Linked DNA regions of Homo sapiens: region 2 is linked to region 1. Evidence: fine-mapped expression QTL. A gene starts in region 1. The other region holds a variant in brackets. All regions are shown on one strand. Distances are from middle to middle. Region 1 holds the start of KIAA0319L (KIAA0319 like). Region 2 overlaps KIAA0319L (KIAA0319 like).

What was found. PIP is the estimated chance that this variant, and not a neighbour inherited with it, causes the effect. A credible set is the group of variants that fine-mapping cannot tell apart.
Region 2: its variant is the best candidate, but not a certain one, in a credible set for the expression of KIAA0319L in skeletal muscle (GTEx, PIP 0.70).

The regions. Positions count from the first base shown.
Region 1 is chr1:35,555,226-35,560,608 of GRCh38, reverse strand. It overlaps KIAA0319L (KIAA0319 like), which reads left to right and starts at 3,206. Exons shown (of 21, transcript NM_024874.5): 1 at 3,206-3,402. NCDN (neurochondrin) reads right to left here and starts at 2,810. Exons shown (of 7, transcript NM_014284.3): 1 at 2,386-2,810; 2 at 1,362-1,502; 3 at 1-283. The coding sequence starts at 2,418. RefSeq lists enhancers at 1-412, 869-1,594, 2,973-3,032, 2,322-3,048, 3,049-3,776 and 1 more and silencers at 1,982-2,191, 3,263-3,402, 3,413-3,512.
Region 2 is chr1:35,525,353-35,530,735 of GRCh38, reverse strand. The region is part of intron 2 of KIAA0319L (KIAA0319 like); the gene reads left to right. Among named protein-coding and RNA genes, the nearest start is that of KIAA0319L, 29 kb to the left of the region's middle. The variant TGAAG/G (reference allele first, on the strand shown) is at 2,843.

The DNA of each region.
Region 1 (5,383 bases):
CAATCATGGAGCGGCGGGCAGCATCGTCCGGGTCCCCCCGGGCTGTGAGGAAGGTGCTAAGAATGGGAATCTTGTTCAGGACTTGGGGATGGGCGGCCAGTTCAGGGTCACTGCAGAAGCAGGCCAGCAGGGCCACACCCAAAGCCCGCAGAACATGGTCAGGGCAGCCATCCGGCGCCTCCTTGGTGGTCAGGAGACGATTGGGGAAGGTGAAGCCGACAGCATCGAAGATCCGCCGCCGAGTTTTGGCATCTATGTCACCTGCTTTGACTGCCTTGGTCACCTATAGGGGGTATGTGCTATCATCAGGATGAAAGGAAGAAGTGGGAAAGACTGTCCCTCTCCTGCATCCTGGGGCACTGAGGACTAGCAAGATGAGGTTATGCAACAGGACTCATCTGAGGTCATTTCATCCAGCTCCTTTTTTCTCCTTAGAGGCAGATAAATGTGACCTCTGGGATCCCTCTCATCTGTGACTGTCCCATGGAAGTGAGGTCTAGTCTTCCTCAACCATTCATTTGAGCATTTCAACACCTGGCCAGTTGAGAAGTTCTTCCTGATGTCTAAATGCCCACAACCTGGGATGGAAGGGGCTTAGAACTCAATGTTTTAAGATCTCCCAAGGATTTAAAGTCCTTCCTTAATTGCTCCCTCCAGAGAAGTCCCTGATCCATTTCTGCCACCTTCTCAGGGGAAATGGCTCCTGTGTCTCGCCGCTCCGCCTGTCAAAACATTTCCCCTTACATTTCACCTAAACACCTCCTCTGCTGCAGTGTGAGCCCTTGACTCCAGAGCCTTCTCCTTGTTGCCATGGCAAACAAGCAGCGGCTGTACTCCCTCCTCCCTTCACCCCCCACACACAACCCCCCCTTCCTAGCACTGCAGCTTCTGCTCTGCTGTCCCCAGCTTGGGTTCCTCCAAAAAGGCTAAGCCCCAAACTAGCTCCCATTCCTTAACCTACCTACTGCCATCCTGGCCTTCCCCTAGGACCCCTCCCCAGCCACTTCCAGCCCTGCTACTCTCTCCAGGCCCAGAACAACCATCCCCAGCCCTCAAGTACTCTGCACTAGTTACTACCTGCTGCTGTTACCCTATGAGTCAGCTTCCATCTGCTCTGGGACGCCCCAGAAAACAGACCCAGGCAGCCCCTAGTGCCACAGCCTTATTCAGTCCCATTCTCCTCTTTGCCCCCATTCTCAGGGGGAGCAAAAAAGAGCACAAAGGTAGGGGTCTTGGGCCTTCGTTGGTGCCTCCAGGGTTGCTAGCACTACGTACATATCCTTGGGGACTCACTGACCCCATTCCTTGGGGGCCCAACCACCCAGCCCTTCCCACCTCCCAATTTTCAGCCAGTTCCTTACTAGCAGCAGGGCTGCAAACTGCTCGCTGTCATTCTTGGCCTCACGGAGGGCTCCCAGGTAGCGCTCCAGGGTGGGGTTTCGGCCCTCTGCCTGGTTCAGAGCTGGCTCGCAATCCGAGGCCATGATGCTCGCCTTGCCCAACTGTGAACACAAGAGGGACTGAGCATCCCTCTGCAGAGGAGGGACGGGGGTGGGGTGGGGGTGAGAGTGGAGGATGGAGGGAGGGAGGGATTAGCACAGAGGGAGGGGAGGAGAGAATCTGGAGGGGTGGACTCCTCAGGACTGACCTCCCCCCAGAAGCCCCTTTAAGGGGCTGGATCTGCAAATCCTTAGGGATAAAGAAGGGACCCTGGTCCAAGGTCACCTCCAGAAAGCGGGAAAGAAGGACCATGCATGCTGCTGCTCAGCCGGACAGCTCTCCTCACCAGTCTCCTGGGGGTGGGCGGGAGCTGGCCCCACTGCTCAGCTGTCCCCCTGGCACCGGAGGCTGGGTTTTATCTCCCTCCACAGGGACACAGAGGGAGTGAGTGGTGAGGACAGACAGGGAGAAATGGAGACATACATGGGTGAAGTTCGATTATCCGGACTCAGGCTGACATGGGAGAAAAGGACACCCCAGGCTTCCTTTCCCCTCCCTTCTTCAGAGGCAGAGATACGCTTCAGAAGTGAGAATACAAGACGCTCAACAGGGAAGGCTTGGAGGCCCCTTTGGGGACCCCACCCCTCCAGCCAGGGCTCTCAGTCGCCCCCGCAGGCTCCTTGCCTCCTCTCCTTTCCCTCCCTCGGGTAGAGGCTGCAGCAGCAGCAGCAGCGGCGGCGGCAGCAGCAGAATTAACCCCTTGCGCTCCCTCTTCTCGCCCTCCCCGTCCCGCTACCAGCCTGTGGATGCCGGCAGGGGCTGGAGAAGCAAGAGGGGGTCCCGGATAGTTCCCAGGACAACGGAGAATCCAAAAGCCGGATAATCGAAGCAGGGCTGCTGAGATGGGGAGATGAGAAGGGGAGGAGGGTTCCTGGCGGTCACCACCTGTCCCGCCGCAGCCAGGTCACAACACGACATTGATGAAGTCACGACAGGGCGGCGATGAGATCACACTTCACGATGGCGCGGTGATGTCACGGAGAGATCACGTCAAAATCACGACATGGGAGACAGCCCCCAAAGATGACAGGGCAAATTAAAAAAAAAAAAGATATATATTGAAAAGGGCTGTGACAAAATGGAGTCTCGACAGGGCACGATGGTGTCGCGATATGGCGCGATGGAGTCGCGATAGGGTCCCCGGGGTGTGTCGGCATCGATCAGCGCCGGCTCGGAGAGGCCCCGGCTGGGATGCAGGGGAGGGCCCGAAGGGGGCTGAGCTCACCAGGCTGCGGCCCCGAGCGGCGAAGTCTTCTCCCAGCGCGATGCTCCGGGAGCCTCGGGCCGCTGCTCACGCCGCGTTGCCCACTCCTGGCTCCAGGCTGCTGCAGCTCCACCCCCACCCCCGCACCGCTCTTGACGAATCCGCGGCTGCTTCACTCCGGGCTCTGGCCAATGGCAAGTCAGGGTGCTAAGCAGTAGGGGGTGCCGCCGTTGCCGCCATCTTGCTTGTGGGTATTGCCCGAGTCTGGGGGCTGGGGCTCGAGCGAAGGAGGCAAGGTGCAGACTGCCTCTGGAGAGCGGGCGGCGAGAGGCTGGGGGCCCAGATTCCTTCGCTTGTGCGTAGTTTTACCCGCCCAGCACTGCCCCTCCTCCCCCTTGGTCTCGCGGCCGGCATTGCCCTTCCCGGGGGAGGGGCGGGAGGGCTTGGTTAGCATGGAGAGTGTGTTTCCGGGTCGGTCCCGGGGAGGTGGGAGGAGGCGGTGTTTCCGGCCGCCGTCGCTGTCCAGGGAGGCTGAGGCGAGAGGTAGCTGTCCGGGTGGGGAGCCCGCACTACCTTCTTCCTCTTCCTCCTCCTCCTCCGGGTGAGGGGAGCGAAGGTTGGGGGTCCCCGAGCCCATGGACCAGGAGGAGGCGGAGGCCGCCGAGAGCCGGGGCCCCGCTATGTGGCCCTGAGCCCCGGTAGGTGGCCGGGGGCGGCTGGCTGCCAGGCCGAGGACCATGGGCTCAGGGGAGGGGCAAGCGGGACGGGCGATGTCAGCGGCTGCGCTGGCCGGATGTTGGGTCCGGAGGTGGCGCCCCTGGCTCGGCCAGGGCAGCCAGCTGCTTCTGTCCTTGCAGGTGCGCAGCTTGGGTCCCAGGCTGAACCCCGCTTCTCTCGGGCCTGGGCCTAGTCATGCAGCTCCCTCCATCCCCTGAGAGCCAGGCAGACAGCCGGGGTTCGGGGCGCTGCCGTCCTTCTTCCACCTTCGACCTCTGCAGCCTAGTCTTTAGTTGCTGTCTCTGATGTTTGGTCTCTCCACCGAGATAGAAAGTTGGTGCAGAATGAAGAGGGGATGGGGTTGAGCACGATGTGTCCATTATAATGTGAAACCTGCCTCATCCACGATTTTGAAAATTATGCCCCACAGAGGGTCCTGTAGTGGCTGCAGTGAGCACAAAGGTGAAATGAAGGAAGTCAAAATTGATAACCTCTGGCGGGATTCCAGGAACTCTTTGGCTTCTGGTCTCATAGTGGTTGTGTCCAACTGACAGTAGTTGCAGTTAGTGAAGAGCATTAGCTGACTCTCCTTGTGCTCTCTCCTGTGATTAACAGACTGAAAACTAGGAACAAATTGGAAAGACGACCTCCCAGAACAATCTGTTCATTTTTCCAGCTATTTGGAAAACAGTGTCTGCAAATATAAGCAAAGCTATTCATGGCAGTCTGTTCTGTAACTTTCCCAAATATCTGAGACTTTTTAAAAAAGAGCTTTATTCTCGATTACTCATACCAACTGAATAGATTGTTTCAGACGTGCTCCATCGTTGTTCAAACATATCTTATCGCTGTGTACATAAATGGAGTTCCACGTATGTAGTTGACAGACTGAACTGTGATACATCCCCCATCAACCTGAAGTATTAAGTAAACATTACCCCCTGCTCTGTCTGAACAGCTGCTGCAACAGAGAGTGCTTTTATTTTGGGTGTACTTGTAACGCCCTAAATGCCAGAACTATTGTGAGCTTCTCTAGATTTTCATTTGTCAAGTATTGTGGGGGTGTGTGTTCTCTCCCTGGGTTGTTACCCTTTGATTCAGTAACAAACTATTCGGATCTTGGTGATGTGTTGTTGTTCTTGCGTTTGGTCAGCAAGCCTTTAACTGGACCCTAGCAGTGATTTGTGCCCTTAGGCAATTATAGGTTTCAGAGGAATGACTGGTTAGGAGTTCAAATGAAATTAACTCTGCCTTTCTCTTAGACGCAAGATTTATTAGACATGGCACTTCTAATCAGCTTGTTAGTCCAGTGGTGTTTATTACTCCATTTTTCAAAAGCTATTCATTTCTTTTCTGCTTCTCCCACCCACCTGTCAGGCTATTGATGACAGCTGTTGAGTCACCTTGAGTTTTAAATCCTTTTGTGGTAGGCAGAAATGTGTTGGGTAAGATTCATACACACCCATACATGCACACATGCATACTCACTCGTTCCCTCTTGGGAGGCTAGAGAAATTGCTGGATGTACTTTCTAACTTAGGCTCCATTTCATAATCTCTTGAACATGTCTCTGGCCCACACACCTCCTTTCTGCCCCCTGCTCCCTGAAATACAACTACAAAACAACTAGAAATAGGAATGGATGGAAGTGAATGAGAACGATGAAGTCCTTCAGATGCATGTGGTTCTGCAAAAGCCTTTTCTTGGGTGGGCTGCACCTTAGTTTTGCAGCTGTGTGTATGTCTGTGGCTGTTTCTTGGTATTAGTCAGTATTGGTATCCAGCCCAGGCAATGCTGATCTCCCTGTATGCTGGCCGTGGATAGGAGTTAGGGGTTGGCAGCCTGTGTCGTTTGCTGGATGTAGATGACAGGTACATAGTTGGACAGAAGTTTTTGAATTGCTTCTTCAGAACTCAGTCAACCCTCATAATGTTGCCAATATTTACGTACTAATTTAGACAA
Region 2 (5,383 bases), 30 kb after region 1:
TTTCCCTGTGAAAGCCAATACAAAAAATTGGAAGTGACTGTTACACTTGATATACAGTTATCAACAAAAGGACTCAAGAAACATGAAAAGGCAAGGAAATATGGTATCTCCAAAAGAACACAATAATTCTCCAATAACAGACTTCAGTGAAAAATTTATGATCTGCCTGAAAATTCAAAATCATGATACTAAAGAGGCTTAGTGATATGCATGGGAACACAGATAAACAACACAAAGAAATCAGAAAAACAATTTAGGATATGAATGAGAAATTCACCAAAGAGATAGCATAAAAAAGAACCAAACAAAAATCCTAGAACTGAAGAACTTAGTGAATGAAATAAAAAAGGCAATTGAGAGCTTTAGCGATAAACTAGATGATAAAGCAGAAGAAAGAATTTCAGAACTCGGGCTGGGTGCAGTGGTTCATGGCTGTAATTCCAGCATTTTGGGAGGCTGAAACAAGCAGATCGCTTGAGTCCAGGAGTTAGATGGGCAACATAGTGAAGCCCTGACTTTACAAAAAAAAAAAAAAGGCCGGGCATGGTGGTGCATGCCTGTAGTCGCAGCTACGCAGGAGGCTGAAGTGGGAGGATTGCTTGAACCTGTGAGGCTGAGGGTGCAGTGAATTGTGATCGTGCCACTGCACTCCAGCCTGAGTGACAATGAGACCCTGTCTCCAAAAAAAATAATTTCAGAACTTGAAGACAGGTCTTTAAAAATAACCCAGTTAGATTAAAAAAAAAAAAAAAGGCATTGTGACATATAGGATACCATAAAGTGACCAAAAATCTGAGTCTTGGGTATCCCAGAAGGTGAAGAGAAGTTTAATGGCATAGAAAACTGATTAAACAAAATAATAGCTTTAAACTTCCCAAATTTAAGAAGAGATTTAGACATACAGATACAGGAAGCTCAGAGATTCCCAAACAGATACAACCCACAAAGATCTCCTTGGCACATGATAGTCAAACTGTCAGAAGTAAAGACAAAAAGAATTCTAAACACAGCAAGAGAAAAGCATCTGTTCACATCTAAAGGAATCCTGATCAGACTAACAGCAGATTTCTCAGCAGAAACCTTGCAAGCCAGGAGAGAATGAGATGATATATTCAAAGTGCTGAAGGGAAAAAACAAACCTGCCAGTTAAGGATACTGTACCTAGTGAAGTTATCTTTCATAAATAAAGGAGAAATGAAGACTTTCCCAGACAGGGAAAAACAGATAATTCATAACCACTAAACCAGTCCTACAATAAAAGATTAAGGGAGTCCTACATTCGGAAGTGAAAGGATAATATCTACCATCATGAAAACTCGTGAAAGTATACAACTAACTAATAGAGCAAGCACACAGATGAGAAAGAGTAAGGACTCACTCATTTTATCATCAAACCATAACAATAAGAAAGGAACAAAAGATATGAAAATAACCAGAAGGCAGTTAACAAAATGACAGTAGTAAGTTCTCACATATCAATAATAACCTTGAATGTAAACAGATTAAATTTTCCACTTAAAGGATATGGACTGGTCCAGTCATGTGGACGCATTCTTTTAGTCCCAGTACTTCAGGAGGCCAAGGTGGGAAGGATTGCTTGAGCCTGGGAGTTTGAGACCAGCCTGGGCAACATAGTGAGACCTCATCTCTACCAAATAACAACAACAATAACAGACTGTCAGAATAGATAAGAAAACTTGACCCAACTATATGCTGCCTACAAGAAACTCACTTTACTTGTAAAGATAACTATAGACTGAAAGTAAAGGGATGGAAAAAAATACTCCGTGCAAATGGAAACCAAAGGTGAGCAGGAATAGCTTTACTTGTATCAGGTAAAACAGACTTTAAGTCAAAACCAGTAAAAAGAGACAAAGAAGGTCATTATATAATGATAAAGGGATCCATTCAGCAATAGGATATAACAATTCTAAATATATATACACCCAACACCAGTTCACCCAAAGCAAATATTAGACCTAAAGAGAGAGGTAGACTCTAATACAATAATAGTTGGGGACTTCAACACCCCACTCTCAACAATAGACAGATTATCTTAACAGAAAAATCAACAAAAAACACTGGATTTAAACTATGCTTTAGATCAAATGGATCTCACATTTACAGAACATTTCATCTACCAACTGCAAAATACACATTCCCATCAACACATGGAACATTCTCTAGGATAGACCATATGTCAGACCACGAAACCTCAACACATTTTTAAAAATCAAAATCATATCAAGTATCTTCTCAGACCACAATTGAATAAAACAAATCCATAACAAGAGGAACTTAGAAACTATACAAATACATGGAAATTAAACAACATGCACCTGAGTGACCATTGGATCAATGAAAAAAGAAGAGATAAATTTCTTGAAACACTTTGGGAGGCTGAGGCAGGAGGATCACTTGAGACCAGGAGTTCAAGATGAGTCTGGACAACATATTGAGACCCTGTCTCTACAAAAATAATTAGCCAGGTGTGGTGGCACATGCCTGTAGTCCTAACTACTCAGGAGGCTGAGACAAGAGGATCTCTTGAGCCCAGGTGTTTGAAGTAGCAGTGAGCCATGATTGTGCCACTTTGCTCCACCTGGGTGACAGAGTTAGACCCTGTCTCCAAAAAGAAGAAAAAAAATTTCTTAAATTTAAATGGAAAAAACATACCAAAACCTATGGGATACAGCAAAAGCAGTGCTAAGAGGGAAGTTTAGAGCAATAAACACCTACATCAAAAAAAGTAGAAAGATTTCAAATAACCTAATGATGGACCTTAAGGAACTAGAAAGGCAAGGACAAACCAAACCCAAAATTAGTAGAAGGAAGGAAATAA[TGAAG/G]ATCAGAGCAGAAATAAACAAAATAGAGACTAAGAAATAAAAAAAAAGAAATGAAAAGTTGGTTTAATGAGAAGATAAACAAAATCAATAAACCACTAGCTAGACTAACCAAGAAAAAAAGAAGAGCCAAAAGCAGGAATGAAAAGGAGACCTTACAACTGATATCACAGAAATGCAAAAGATATCAGAGAACATGAACTATACATGAACAAACAGGAAAACCTAGAGGAAATTGATGAATCCGTGGACACATAAAACCTACCAAGATTGAATAAGGAAGAAATGGAAAACCTGAACAGACCAATAACAAGTCACAAGATTGAATCAATAATAAAAAGTCTCTCAACCAAAAAAGCCTAGGACCTGATGGCTTTACTGTCAAATTCTACCGGACTAATAAGCAGGAACTAATACTGGTTCTTCTCAAACTAGTCCAAGAAATAGAAGACGCAGAAACTCTCTCTAATTCATAGAATTCTTCATAATTCTATGAAGCCAGCATTACCCTGATACCAAAACTAGGCAGAGACATAACAAAAAAAGAAAACTACAGGTCAATATCCCCAGTGAACATAGATGCAGAAATCCTCAACATAATATTAGCAAAACAAATTCAACAGCACATCAAGAAGATACTTCATGATCAAGTGGGATTTATCCCAGGGATGCAAGGATGGTTCAACAAATGCAAATCAATAAAATGATACATCATGTCAACAGAATGGAGGACAAAAACCGTGTGATTATCTCAATAGGCAGAGAAAAAGCAACTTATAAAATTCAACAACCTTTGTTTCCACAAATGCTTTTGGAATATAAAATTCAGTATCCCTTCATGATAAAAATGCCCAACAAGTTAGGCATAGAAGGAACAGCCTCAACCTCCTGGGCTTAAGCAGTTCTCCCACCTCAGCCTGCTGAGTAGCTGGGACTATAGGTGCATGCTGCCATGCCTGAATAATTCTTTAAATTTTTTGCAGAGACAGGATCTTGCTATATTGCCCAGGCTGGTCTTTAACTCCTGGCCTCATGTGACCCTCCTGCAATCCTTCCGTCTTGACCTCCCAAAGTGTTGAGATTACAGGCATGATCCACTGTACCCCACCTCTAAAATTTTTATGGAACCACAAAGACTCCAATAACCAAAGCAATTTGAACAAAAAGAATAAAGCAGGAGGCATCACACTTCCTGACTTCAAAATATATGATAGTCTGGACACAGTGGCTCATGCCTGAGCAACTTAGTGAGACCTCATCTCTACAAAAAATTTTAAAAATTAGACAAGGGTGATGGTATGTATCTGTGGTCCCAGCTATTTGGTAGGCTGAGGCAGGAGGATTGTTTAAGCCCAGGAGGTTGAGGCTGCAGTGAGCTAAGATTGGACCACTACACTCCAGCCTGGGCAACAAAGCGAGATCCTGTCTCTAAAAACCCACAAATATATATATATATATATACATATATATATGTATGTGTGTATATATATATATATATATATATGTATGTATATATATATGTATGTATATATATACACACACACACGTACATATATACATATACACACACATACACATATGTATATATGTACATATATATGTGGGTTTTAAATATATACATATATATATATATGTATATAAAATTCTAGTAACCAAAACAACAGACAGCATGGTATTGGTATAAAAACAGACAGTCACATAGACTAATGGGACAGAACAGAGAACTCAGAAATAAACCCACGTATTAATAGCCAATTGATTTTTGACAGAGGTGCCAAGGACACACATTGGGGAAAGGATATCTTGTTCAACAAATGGTCCTGGGAAAACTGGATACTCATACACAGAAGAATGAAACTAGAGCCCCTGTCTGTCATCATATACAAAAATCAACTCAAAATGGATTAAAGACTTAAATGTGAGACCCAGAACTGTAAAACTACTGGGAAGAAACATAGGGGAAACACTCTAGCATATTGGTCTAGGCAAAGATTTTATGGCTAAGACCCTAAAAGCACAGGCTGCAAAACCAAAAATAGACAAATGGGATTATGTTAAGCTAAAAAGCTTCTGCACAGCAAATGAAACAACAAAGTGAAGAGAGAACCCGTTGAATGGGAGAAAATATTTGCAAAATATCTGTCTGGTGACAAGGGACTAATATCCATAATACACAATTCCAACAACTCAACAGCAAAAAACCCTACATAGCCCCATTAAAAAGTGGGCAAAGGATCTACATATCCAGACATAAAAATGATTAACAGATATGTGAAAAAATGTTCAACATCACTAATTATTAGGGAAAGGCAAATCAAAACCACAATGAGATATCATCTTACCCCAGTTAGAATGGCTGTTATCAAAAAGGCAAAAAAGAACAGATGCTGGCGAGTATGCGGAAAAAAGAGAACTCTCATATACTATTGGAGGGAATGTAAAGTAGTACAGCCATTATGTAAAACAGTATGGAGATTTCTTAACAAACTAAAGATAGAACTACTATATGATCCAGCAGTCCCACTACTGGGTATTATTTA